Homo sapiens: one gene and its partners. The protein of the gene in region 2 interacts with the protein of the main gene of each other region in a pairwise test. Each region holds a gene or a part of one and is shown on either strand. Other genes may lie near its edges. The genes, in order: OLFM2, ST13 and CD101.

What was found.
Region 1: the proteins of ST13 (region 2) and OLFM2 interact in a two-hybrid assay, tested with the Homo sapiens proteins (one large-scale study listed by BioGRID and IntAct).
Region 3: the proteins of ST13 (region 2) and CD101 interact in a two-hybrid assay, tested with the Homo sapiens proteins (one large-scale study listed by BioGRID and IntAct).

The regions. Positions count from the first base shown.
Region 1 is NC_000019.10:9,926,417-9,930,067, forward strand, and holds part of OLFM2 (noelin-2 isoform 2 precursor), read right to left. Parts: intron 1-3,651. UniProt on the Homo sapiens protein: Involved in transforming growth factor beta (TGF-beta)-induced smooth muscle differentiation.
Region 2 is NC_000022.11:40,832,580-40,836,230, forward strand, and holds part of ST13 (hsc70-interacting protein), read right to left. Parts: intron 3,309-3,651; coding exon 3,224-3,308; intron 3,092-3,223; coding exon 2,981-3,091; intron 93-2,980; coding exon 1-92. UniProt on the Homo sapiens protein: One HIP oligomer binds the ATPase domains of at least two HSC70 molecules dependent on activation of the HSC70 ATPase by HSP40. Stabilizes the ADP state of HSC70 that has a high affinity for substrate protein.
Region 3 is NC_000001.11:117,000,398-117,004,578, forward strand, and holds the start of CD101 (immunoglobulin superfamily member 2 isoform 1 precursor), read left to right. Parts: upstream 1-1,362; 5' UTR 1,363-1,375; coding exon of another isoform or gene 1,376-1,420; coding exon 1,421-1,463; intron 1,464-4,181. UniProt on the Homo sapiens protein: Plays a role as inhibitor of T-cells proliferation induced by CD3. Inhibits expression of IL2RA on activated T-cells and secretion of IL2. Inhibits tyrosine kinases that are required for IL2 production and cellular proliferation.

The DNA of each region.
Region 1 (3,651 bases), on a different chromosome or scaffold from region 2:
TGGCGGCCGCCTGTAGTCCCAGCTATTCCGGAGGCTGAGATGGGAGAATCGCTTGAATCTGGGAGGCGGAGCTTGCAGTGAGCTGAGATCGCGCCACTGCACTCCAGCCTGGGACAGAGAGCGAGACTCCATCTCAAAAATAAATAAATAAATAAATAAATGACTAAAGTGATAAATTTTATATTATGTGTATTTTACCACAATTAAAAATTTTTAAAGTCTTCCATTTAAACATGCACAACCTCTTCTATGAGTCACTATTACCAGCTCACTAAATTCTAGGCCAAGTGCAGTGGCTCACGCCTGTAATCCCAGCAGTTTGGGAGGCTGAGGCAGGAAGATCTTATGAGCCCAGGAGTTCAAGACCGGCCTGGACAATATAGTGAGACCCTGTCACTACAAAAAATAAACAAAAAAAATTATGTGGGCATGGTGGCACACGCCTGTGGTCCCAGTGACTCAGGTGGCTGAGGTGGGAGGATTGCCTGAGCACAGGAGTTTGAGGCTGCAGTGAGCTGTGATCGCGTCACTGCACTCCAGCCTGGGCAACAGAGCAAGACTCTATCTCTAAAAATAAATAAATAAGGTCCAGCACGGTGGCTGACGCCTGTAATCCCAGCACTTTAGGAGGCCGAGGCAGGCAGATCACGAGGTCAGGAGTTTGAGACCAGCCTGGCCAACATGGTGAAATCCTGTCTCTACTAAAAATACAAAAATTAGCCAGGCGTGGTAGCACGCGCCTGTTAACCCAGTTCCTTGGGAGGCTGAGGTAGGAGAATTGCTTGAACCTGGGAGGGGAGGGTTGCAGTGAGCTGAGATCGCACCACTGCACTCCAGCCTGGGCGACAGAGCGAGGCTCTGTCTCGAAAAAAATATAAATAAATAAATGAATAAATAAATTCTAAAATCCTTAACCCAGCTTTCGAAGCCTTTACAGTCAGATCACAACCTTTTCAAGCTCACTTCCCTTCTCCTATCTGCACCCACCATAGGCATCAACCACACACTTACCCTAGTTCCCATTTCCAGAAACTTCCCCTCTTTTAAACATGGTTAGAATCATGTAAAATAAGGGTAAACCCACCAGGTCTTGTCAGCATGACCAATGACTTTCTTCTGTGTCCACCCTCCAGTCTTCACTCGCTCATCCTTCAAGGCCCATCTCAAATGCCACCTCCCCCAGGAAGCCCACTTGACTCTTGACATCTGGCACTTTGTACCATGTGTCGGCTGCATCTGTCTCCCAAATTTGGCAACTGACAGCCATTCAGAGCGGACTGTGTCACGTCCCTCCTGAGTGAGTGAGTGCCTCTATCAGTGTCTTTCTCATAGAAATTACTAGAGAAATTAGGAACAGAAACAATGTGGGCCGGGTGCAGTGACTCATGCCTGTAATCCCAGCACCTTGGGAGGCTGAGGCGGATCACTTGAGGTCAGGAGTTCGAGACCAGCCTGAACAATATTGTGAAACCCTGTCTCTACTAAAAATACAAAAATTAGCTGGGCCCTGTGGCTCATGCCTGTAATCCCAGCACCTTGGGAGGCTGAGGCAAGAGGATCACTTAAGGCCAAGAGTTCAAGACCAGCCTGGGCAACATAGTGAGACCCCCATCTCTACCAAAAAAAAGAAAAAGAAAGAGAAAAATTAGCTGGATGTAGTGGTACACACCTGTAGTCCTAACTATTTGAGAGGCTAAGGTAGGAGGATCACTTGGGCCAAGGAGGTTGAGGCTACAGTGGGCTGTGGTCACACCACTCCACTCTAGCCTGGTCAACAGAGCAAGACCCTGCGTCTTAAAAAAAAAAAAACAAAATAAAATTTAAAAAGAACCCGGCTCACCATGTGCTCATCATGTATTCTTCCTGGGATTCACCAGGACTCTCTTAGAGCCTAAAAAGTGAGAAGCTATTTGCCATTTCATTTGATGGCTGAACTGGCTTTGCCTTTTTGTTTCTTTCTTCTTGTGCAATGACACCTGTCTTCTCATCTATTAAGCAAGGCTAGTTACTAGCTGCCCAGGATTGTTGGAACTATGTGTAAAGTAAGAGTAAACTGGGACCGAGAGTCTACTGGGTCCCCAGGAGCAACAAGAACAACCTTTTCCAGGCTGGATGCAGTGGCTCATGCCTGTAATCCCAGCACTGAGGGAGGCCAAGGTGGGTGGATCACTTGAGGCCAGGAGTTCAAGACCAGCCTGGGCAACATGGCAAAACCCCGTCTCTATTAAAAATACAAAAACTAGCCAGGCATGGTGGTGCACGCCTGTAGTCCCAGCTACTTGGGTGGCTGAGGCATGAGAATTGCTTGAACCCAGGAGGCAGAGGTTGCAGTGAGATGAGATCGTGCCACTGCACTCCAGACTGGGCGACAGAGTGAGACTCTGTCTAAAAAAAAAAAAAAGAGAGAAAGAGAATAAGCTTTTGTATACAGTCTTCATGGAATCTACTCTCCCTACTCTCTGCTCTTTCCTGGTGACTTCTTGGTTTGTGGCTGCACTCTGGATGGATGAAGTTGCAAGACACACTGAGGTGGTGTGCACCTGTAATCCCAACTACTTGGGAGGCTGAGGCAGGAGAATTGCTTAAGCCCAGGAGTTCGAGGCCTGCCTGGGCACCATGGCAAGACCCCATCTCAAAAAGAAAAAAAGAGATAGAATGGGCTTCCACCTTGGCAGGGAGGACATGTCAATGTTCTCAGACAAGAGTTCCCTAGATATGGGAATAAAATGTTCCTGTCATGACAAGTTTTTTCCCAACACAGCCAGACTCAACTCCTCCAGAAGTTAAATCTACTCCACCCCTTGAAAGCACAAACTACCACCCAGTGCTTGTTGCATAGTACAACGCTTGAGATACAGAAGGCTCTCAATGAATGCTCTCTAAATGAATACATGGGCCGGGCGCGGTGGCTCACACCTGTAATCCCAGCACTTTGGGAGGCTGAGGCGGGTGGATCACCTGAGGTCAGGAGTTTGAGACCAGCCTGAACAACAATATAGAGAAACCCTGTCTCTACTAAAAATGTAAACATTAGGTGGGTGTGGTGGTGTGTGCCTGTAGTCCCAGCTACTTGGGAGGCTGAGGCGGGAGAAGAGCTTGAACTCGGGAGGTGGAGGTTGCAGTGAGCCGAGATTGCACCACTTCACGCCAGCCTGGGCGACAGAGTGAGACCCCGTCTCAAAATAAAATAAAATAAAATAAAATAAAATAAATGAATACATGCATGTAGGAACAAATGAAAACAGCACATTACTGTCTCTCAGGCACTAACACTGAATCCTGGGGCTACAAAGTCATTGCCCACACCAGCCACTGGGCTCATCAGAAACCCACACATACCAGGCCAGGCGTGGTGGCTCACGCCTGTAATCCCAGCATTTTGGGAGGCTGAGGCAGGCAGATCACCTGAGGTCAGGAGTTCGAGACCAACCTGACCAACATGGAGAACCCTCGTCTCTACTAAAAATACAAAATTAGCTGGATGTGGTGGTGCATGCCCGTAATCCCAGCTACTCGGGAGGTTGAGGCAGGAGAATCACTTGAACCCAGGAGGCAGAGGTTGCGGTGAGCCGAGATCGCGCCACTGACCTCCAGCCTGGGCAACAAGAGCGAAACTCCATCTCAAAAAAAAAAAGAAAGAAAGAAAGAAAT
Region 2 (3,651 bases):
CTTCTTTCAGCATTGCACTAGCATCTTCATCATAATCCAATTTACAGGCAAGGGCAAGATCATGGGCTGCTTCTTCCCAGTGGCCTAGAAGTCTGAAACAGATTTACACTCATTTTAGGAGCCTTTTATACATATTCACCTATGTGGCATGATATCTTTCTTCCTTACAAAAAAGGATTGTTCTAAAACAGGCTTAAGTTAAATATTAACTATAAACTTTCACTAACCAATTCAATTACTATATCCCATTTTAGTTAACTCTATAAAAACCTGAAAACATTTAAATTTCCTCTATTTAAAGCTGCTTTTCTACTAAAAGCTAAAAAACAAACAAAATCTTTCTTAATTCAGAATATCGTAATTTTCTAAGTATGTAGACCAGTAACTTTCAACTCGCCCAAACCAGGACTAACATAATGTGTTAGCTTTTAGCTACCTTCTATGTAAGACAGAAGAGAAAATAATACATGTGTACAGGCTTTACGAAAAACTCAGAACAAGTAAACCAGAAACTAAAGGTTGGTGACAGTAGGTGAGAATGGGGCAGAGGAGACAGCAACGAAAACTGAGAATTCACTGGGTATACCTTTTAACTCAGGTGTAACTCTTCGAACATTTAAATGCTTTACATACTCAAAAAATAAAATCAGAAAAATGGAAATAAAGCAAATCCTAAACCTGAATACAAACAGAAATAAGAAGCTGTGTGGCTGGGCGCGGTGGCTCACGTCTGTAATCCCAGCACTTTGGGAGGCCGAGGCGGGCAGAACGCGAGGTCAGGAGATCAAGACCATCCTGGCTAACCCGGTGAAACCCCATCTCTACTAAAAATACAAAAAACCAGGCGCGGTGGCAGGCGCCTGTAGTCCCAGCTACTCAGGAGGCTGAGGCAGGAGAATGGCATGAACCCAGGAGGCAGAGCTTGCAGTGAGCCAAGATCGCGCCACTGCACTCTAGCCTGGGTGACAGAGGAAGACTCCATCTCAAAAAAAAAAAAAAAAAGAAATAAGGTGTGGCTAGGCGCGATGGCTCATGCCTATTATCCTAGCACTTTGGGAGGCTGAGGCTGGTGGATCACCTGAGGTCAGGAGTTCAAGACCAGCCTGGCCAATGTGGCAAAACCCCATCTCTAATATAAAAAATTTGCCACACATGGTAGCGCACACCTGTAATCCCAGCTACTTGGGAGGCTGAGGCAGGAGAACCGCTTGAGCCCGGGGCGGGTGCAGTGAGCCAAGATTGCACCACTTCACTCCAGCCTGGGTGAAGGAGCAAAATGCCTCAAAACAAAACAAAACAAAACAAAACACTGTGTATTGCATTAACAACATAAGCTACACAGAAAAAAATGAATTCAAGTAACTTTTCATAGTTATCTTGACTGTATATTTCAAGTGGGATATATATTCTAAGAATAAGAACATCCTTGGGTCACACCTGTAATCCCAATGCTTTGGGAGGGGAAGGAGGGCAGATCACTTGAGGCCAGGAGTTTGAGAATAGCCTGGCTAATAGGCGAAACCCCCTCTCTACCAAAAATACAAAACATTAGCTGGGCATGGTGGGGCGCGACTGTAAGTAATCCCAGCTACTCAGAAGGCTGACTGAGGCAGGATAATCACTTGAACCTGGGAGGTGAAGGTTGCAGTGAGCCTAGATCGCACCACTGCACTCCAGCCTGGGCAACAGAGTGAGACTCTGTGTAGAAACAAAAGACAAAGCAAAACAAAAACTTCCCAAAAAACCTTCAAACTTTACTTAGAGTGTATACTGTTTTTAAGGTATTGTAATTCTGAAACAGTTTTATGTATATCACAGCATTGTAGTAAGTAAATGTAAAACTAGGACAAAAATTTTTACCACACAAGTGTCAAAAATACAAACTAAAAGGTAAAACAAAACATTTAATGTTACATTTTAATAGAAAATATCAGTATAAACTCACAATTTCAAGAATTTTTTCCCTAAATTCATGATTTTTAAAATGTTTTTTTCTAGCTGTTCATTGAAACGACAGTACATACCAGAAGCAATGAACAGACACAGTGATCAAATCTTAGTTTCCGCTATAATGAACCACGATTTCCCACAGAAATAGCTTATTTTCAGTCTGAGACAAGCAAAGCACAAGATGAGCCAACGCTGTCTTGTATTAGAAGGCAAAGAAATACTTGGACTAATGGGATTTCAAAAGGATCAACAGCAATGCATGGGCTTTTCCTGTGCTGACACAGCATTAATAAATTTTATTTCAACTTTTAATGTTTATCTTTAACATGTGTCATAAAATCCACTAGAGCTACTCTGAGTCAGCTAATACAGTTGTCCTAAAAACATATCCATCTTTATCTCCATCCACATTTGAGCCCTTTCAACCCAGGTAACATGTGAAAGTCACTGAACACTTCATTCCCAAGATACAAATATTCCTAAGTTTTGCTGCAAGGTATAATTACTAATCTGGGTTAAATTCACCTCTTTATGCCCCCCCGCCTTCTCCTAATTTTTCAGGTGGCCTAGCAGTGACTGAAGTAGTTTCAGGCTGGCATACTCCTTCTTCTATAATACACTGGTAGTTCAATGCTAACTTACAGAGTCTGAAAGTAAGAGAAAATTTGTAAGGACACTGATAAAAGATCATTCTTTCTTTTCCTGGAATTAATTTTAAGTAAAAATCCTTTCCTTATATTTGGCCATATGTAGTCAAAAACTGGTAAGAGTAGCTTTATTTGAATGAAAAAAATGAAAATACTTTTTATTTCTTCCTTCCTATATTCTCACTTCTTCTTTTAAATTTCTTTTTTTTTTCTTTTACCTTTTAAGCAGCTGTCTACAAGCTATCTCACTTCTTGATACTAAGTACACACTAATTTGAAAATTAAGTCATTAGGAACTTTTGTGTTTTTGTTTAAACAAAGCATCTTAAAACATCAGATTTAAATGTAAAGAGTTCTGAAAATAATTAAATTCAATTATTTACCTGTGTGCTTTCCCCCGCCACTTGTAAGGCTGAGCTGAATCAGGATTTATTTCAATGGCTCTGTCACAGTCTCGGATGGCAGCATTTGGCTTCTGTAATTTGACGAAGACACTGAAAAATAAGTGTGTTATTAAAAAGTATTCATTTCAGTAAAAGTTTTGGGATCAACACAGAAGCAACTCTATTTAAACAAATGTGCAGAAATTATTTGCCAGGGGATGCTTTTCTGTTTAGAGTTCTCACCTGGCCCTCTTGGCATACAAAATGGCCAAGCGAGGATTCAGCTTGATGGCATCTGTGAATAAGTCAATGGCTTTCTGGAGTTCACCTAAAGTGAAACAAAAGTTATCGAGAAATATTCAGAGGATAAAAATATTAATAAAAAGTTTTGATCTGTTATCCAGTTAAGTCTTTTACATTTTTCTTTTAATCAAGTAAAAATAAAAAAGACAACTAAGTTATACTAAAACTGGCTCTTGAAAGCAAATCTTACCACACCTATACTGTAACTCACGAGGTAAGACAATTTCTGAGTACGTAAGCCCCTAACTAACAATAGAATAGCACATTCTTAGTATGACCCATATTGATCTTGTTTAAGGAAAAAGTAGACGGGCACGGTGGCTCACGCCTGTAATCCCAGCACTTTGGGAGGCCAAGGCAGGCAAATC
Region 3 (4,181 bases), on a different chromosome or scaffold from region 2:
TTTAGGTTTTACAATAGTGATGTTATCCCTAGGAACAGTTGGGGAGGTTGGAATTGTGTGGCCTCTGGCTGCATGACTCCTAAACCATAATTTCTAATGTTGTGGCTAATTTGTTAGTCTTACTAGGGAAGTCTGCTCCCCAGGCAAGAAGGGGGTTTGTTTCCAGAAAGGGCTGTTATCCTCTTTGTTTCAAAATTAAACTAAGCTAAATTCCTCCCAAAGTTAGTTTGGCCTACAACCAGGAATTAACAAGGGCAGCTTGGAAGTTAGAAGCAAGATGGAGATGGTGAGGTCAGATCCCTTTCACTGTCATAACTTTCTCACTGTTACAATTTTTGCAAAGGCAGTTTCACAGGGCAGATGAAGATTTACTTAAATGTCTCATGATGGTGATGATGGTAGCTAATATTCATTGAGCAGTTACTATGTACCAGATATTGTTCTAAGTGCTTTAAATAAATTAGCTTGAAACTATCATTCTCAGCAAACTATCTCAAGAACAAAAAACCAAACACTGCATGTTCTCACTCATAGGTGGGAATTGAACAGTGAGAACACTTGGACACAGGAAGGGGAACATCACACACCGGGGCCTGTCATAGGGTCGGGGGAAGGGGGAGGGAAAGCATTAGGAGATATACCTAATGTAAATGACGAGTTAATGGGTGCAGCACACCAACATGGCACATGTATACATATGTAACAAATTTGCACGTTGTGCACATGTACCCTAGAACTTAAAGTATAATAATAATAAAAAAAAGTAAAATACAAAAAAAAAGAAATAAAAAAATAATTAAAAAATTAGCTCATTTGGCATTCACAGTAATCTTACAGGGTACCTACTATTAGTATCCTCATTTTAGCAATGAGGGTTAGGAAAAGTTAATTAAGTTTTCTAAGATTGCACAGTTACTAAAACTAGAATCTGCATGCAAACCCAGGCAGCCTGACTCTAGAGCCTGTAACCTTCAGCACCACCTCATGTCGCCCCAAGTTCATGTTTTTCAGGGGCCTTCTCCCATTTCTCAGTCATTTCCTCTCTCAAGAGAGGAGGAGAAGGAAGGGCCAAGAAGACAACATTGCTGGTGCCTTTTTTATTTATTCAGTTTACCTAAATTCTCTCATCATTACCAAATGACACATACTGTGAGCCAGGTTGAGACCCATCTTTTCTTAGTTTTATCGATATCTGTTTACTTAACCACAAAGATAACTTTTTTACTCCCAAATTTGAGTGATTAGTAAAGAGCTACATAATGTAACCAGTTTTGCTTTTCACAAGACATCTCTATTTCTCAGTGGGCTGAAAACCACACTTTTGCTTCCTCTTTACTTTGCAGTGAGAGCACAGCATTTGTCACTCAACCTCTGAATGTTAGTGACACTATTGGGACGAAAAAGGACTGTGCTGGCCCAAATGGCAGGCATCTCATATGTGGCATCTTTCTTTCTCCTTCTGAGTAAGTTTCATAATCCTTTATGTTTCTCTTGTCACAGGAGTTCATCAACTCAGGGTGCTGAGTGATGGAACAGGACAATTTGGTCTCTACAGGAACAACTATGCCATATATTTCTGATGTTAGCAATAATTTTTGACTTACTAATGACAGTTCTTGGCTTACCTAGACATCCTTGAGTTCCAGGGAGTCACAATGCTTGGTTGAGTCCCATGCACAAGATTCCATTGGTTTTAACATTTGTGTGTGTTGCCAGATCTGTCAGTTTTGCTTGGCCCTGGCTTTACTCATCTTCCTGGGCCGATCATCCCAAGAGACAGTAAAAAAGCTTTGTGTCCCAAACTGAGAGGAGACCTTAAGGTTTGCCTGATATTAAGGCTTGATGGGATAACTATGCCTTGCAGATATGACTGGATGGAAAGAAAGGTTATGAAAGTACTTAGTAGTTTTAGACTATGCTAAAAGAAGGTTCTAGATTTCACCTGCGAGTGGAAGTGGAAATTGACTACTGAGAGACTGAGAAATGAACAGGAAGATTCACTTGGCTCTACTGAGGGCCATGCAGAGGGGCTTGCCTGATCTAGGGGCATTTATCTATGTTTGAATAGGATGGAAGAAGAGAAAATTTGGAGGTAGAAGGGAGAGTCAGATGAGTTGAGCAGGTAATGGAATAGTTTCAAACCAGATAGCAGGTACTTTTTATGCTACAGTTTTCATTAACATCTGGTAAAGAGAATAGACTCCATCTCAGAATAATGTTTAAAATGCATAAAATAAAATGCATAGAATTACAGAGGAAATCAGTCACATTGAAATACAGGTATCAAAATATTTTAAATAAATTATAATGCAGTAATTTATTTGCTTCTTATTTATGCATTACATAACAAAATCTACAGGTAGGTCTTTTAACCACCAAACTTCAAAGTAATGATGAGTATAAATAACATTTCAATATATCTTAAGTAGTTGTAATGTGATATGAAGATATCTGTGGTTGTCTACATACATAACTGAAGAAAATACTAAATTTCCATTAGAGGCAAAAATGAAAATAAAGATGTAAGATTATTTTTCACCCTAGTTTATGGACCCTTTAATCCTACATGTGGACCCAGTTAAGAACTCTTGCTTTATAGCTGGGCATGGTGGCACATACCTGTGGCCCTAGCTACTTGGGAGGCTGAGGTGGGAGAATCGCTTGAACCTGGGAGGTGGAGGTTGCAGTGAGCCAAGATTGAGCCACTGCACTCCAGCCTGGGTGACAGAGTGAGATTCCATCTAAAAAAACAAACAAACAAACAAAACTCTTGCTTTAGAGAGACTGGATGGAGCCAGTGCAGGGACCCGAATGGCTGGGATGATTGGGGAACTAAACCAAGCTGCATTTGGTGTGACCAGGACTATGGCTGAAGAATTAAAAGAAAAGAATACAGCATTCAGCACAAAGAGGTTGCTTAATAAACATTGATTGAGTTGAATTGTGCTCATGTCTCTAGGTACATATGATAGTGTGAGGTTAAGAGTCAGACCTAGGGCCTGCAGGGGAAGTTACTGGGACCACTTGCTGGGTGACGGATGCCTGCCAGACTGGCTTGGCGGGTGTTGATGGATAGGTGCACTGGTGGGATCCTTTGGGGGCTGGTGTGTTTTTGTTGTTTGGTTAAGTTGTCTGAGTGTGATTCTCAAGTGTATGTGCTTTGTGTATTTGAATTCTATGTTTGCTATGTATATAGGAGGAAACTGGGTTTACATTGTGCAATAATTCATAGAATTGCAAATTCTGTCTCTTTTTTTGGTAAGCAGGCTAGAAGCCCTGGGGGAAGGAAAGTAGTAATCAAGGCTCAAAAAGGGGAAGCTGGAAGCTTTTCCTTAACCCATTTAAACAATTACCTAAACTGGGTTATACATTTACTTCTTCTAAATTCTGACTCATCTGAAGCACTAATTTTGTGTAGAAGCACAGTTTTTATGTGAAGAATACATAAATCAGGAAGTTACTGGAAAAAGCTTTAGAAGTCTGCTGTTTGTCCTTACAAATATAGAGGGGAATTGAAATAAATTATTTAAATAACGATCTATTGATCAATTACATTGGTTAGCAAATTTACACTTTGTCCCAATTTTTTTTTAGTAAATATAAGGACTGAACAATCCTGATAGAAAATGGTGCCATATGAGATTAATGTCATGGGTAAATGAGTTCTCGGATTTAGCAGTTAGCTTTGTCTGCTTGATCTATTTCCCCCACCCAAACTAGCTGCCCTACAAATAATGGCCATTAATATGGCAGGGTTTGGGGGAAGGGCTATTGTCTGTCTTACTGAGTTTGCATTCATGAAAAATAAAAAAGATTCCACTTAGTATGGATGGAAGCTATCTCAGCCTCCAAGCATATAGGGTTTTTGAATGTGAAAAGAGAAAGAAGCTGCTTGTTATGTTGGCTATTCCTGAGGTAGGTTTTGTATAAGGTAGCATTATTTGAAACTGCTGTTTTTTTGGTATAAAAAGTGCTCAAGTATGGACCATTTTATACAGTTCAACCTAATCGTTTTCATTCAAATAATACTGCAGTGGTAAATTTGACAATTCCAGTGATATTTTTAAAGAAAGTCAATACCATCGAGGAATTTTTGGTGTTTTGAAAGCATGATTCTAATGTTAGTATGTCAGTGCCAAGCTTTGTACTCATCAGCCAACAAGAATATGAGCTACTATTCA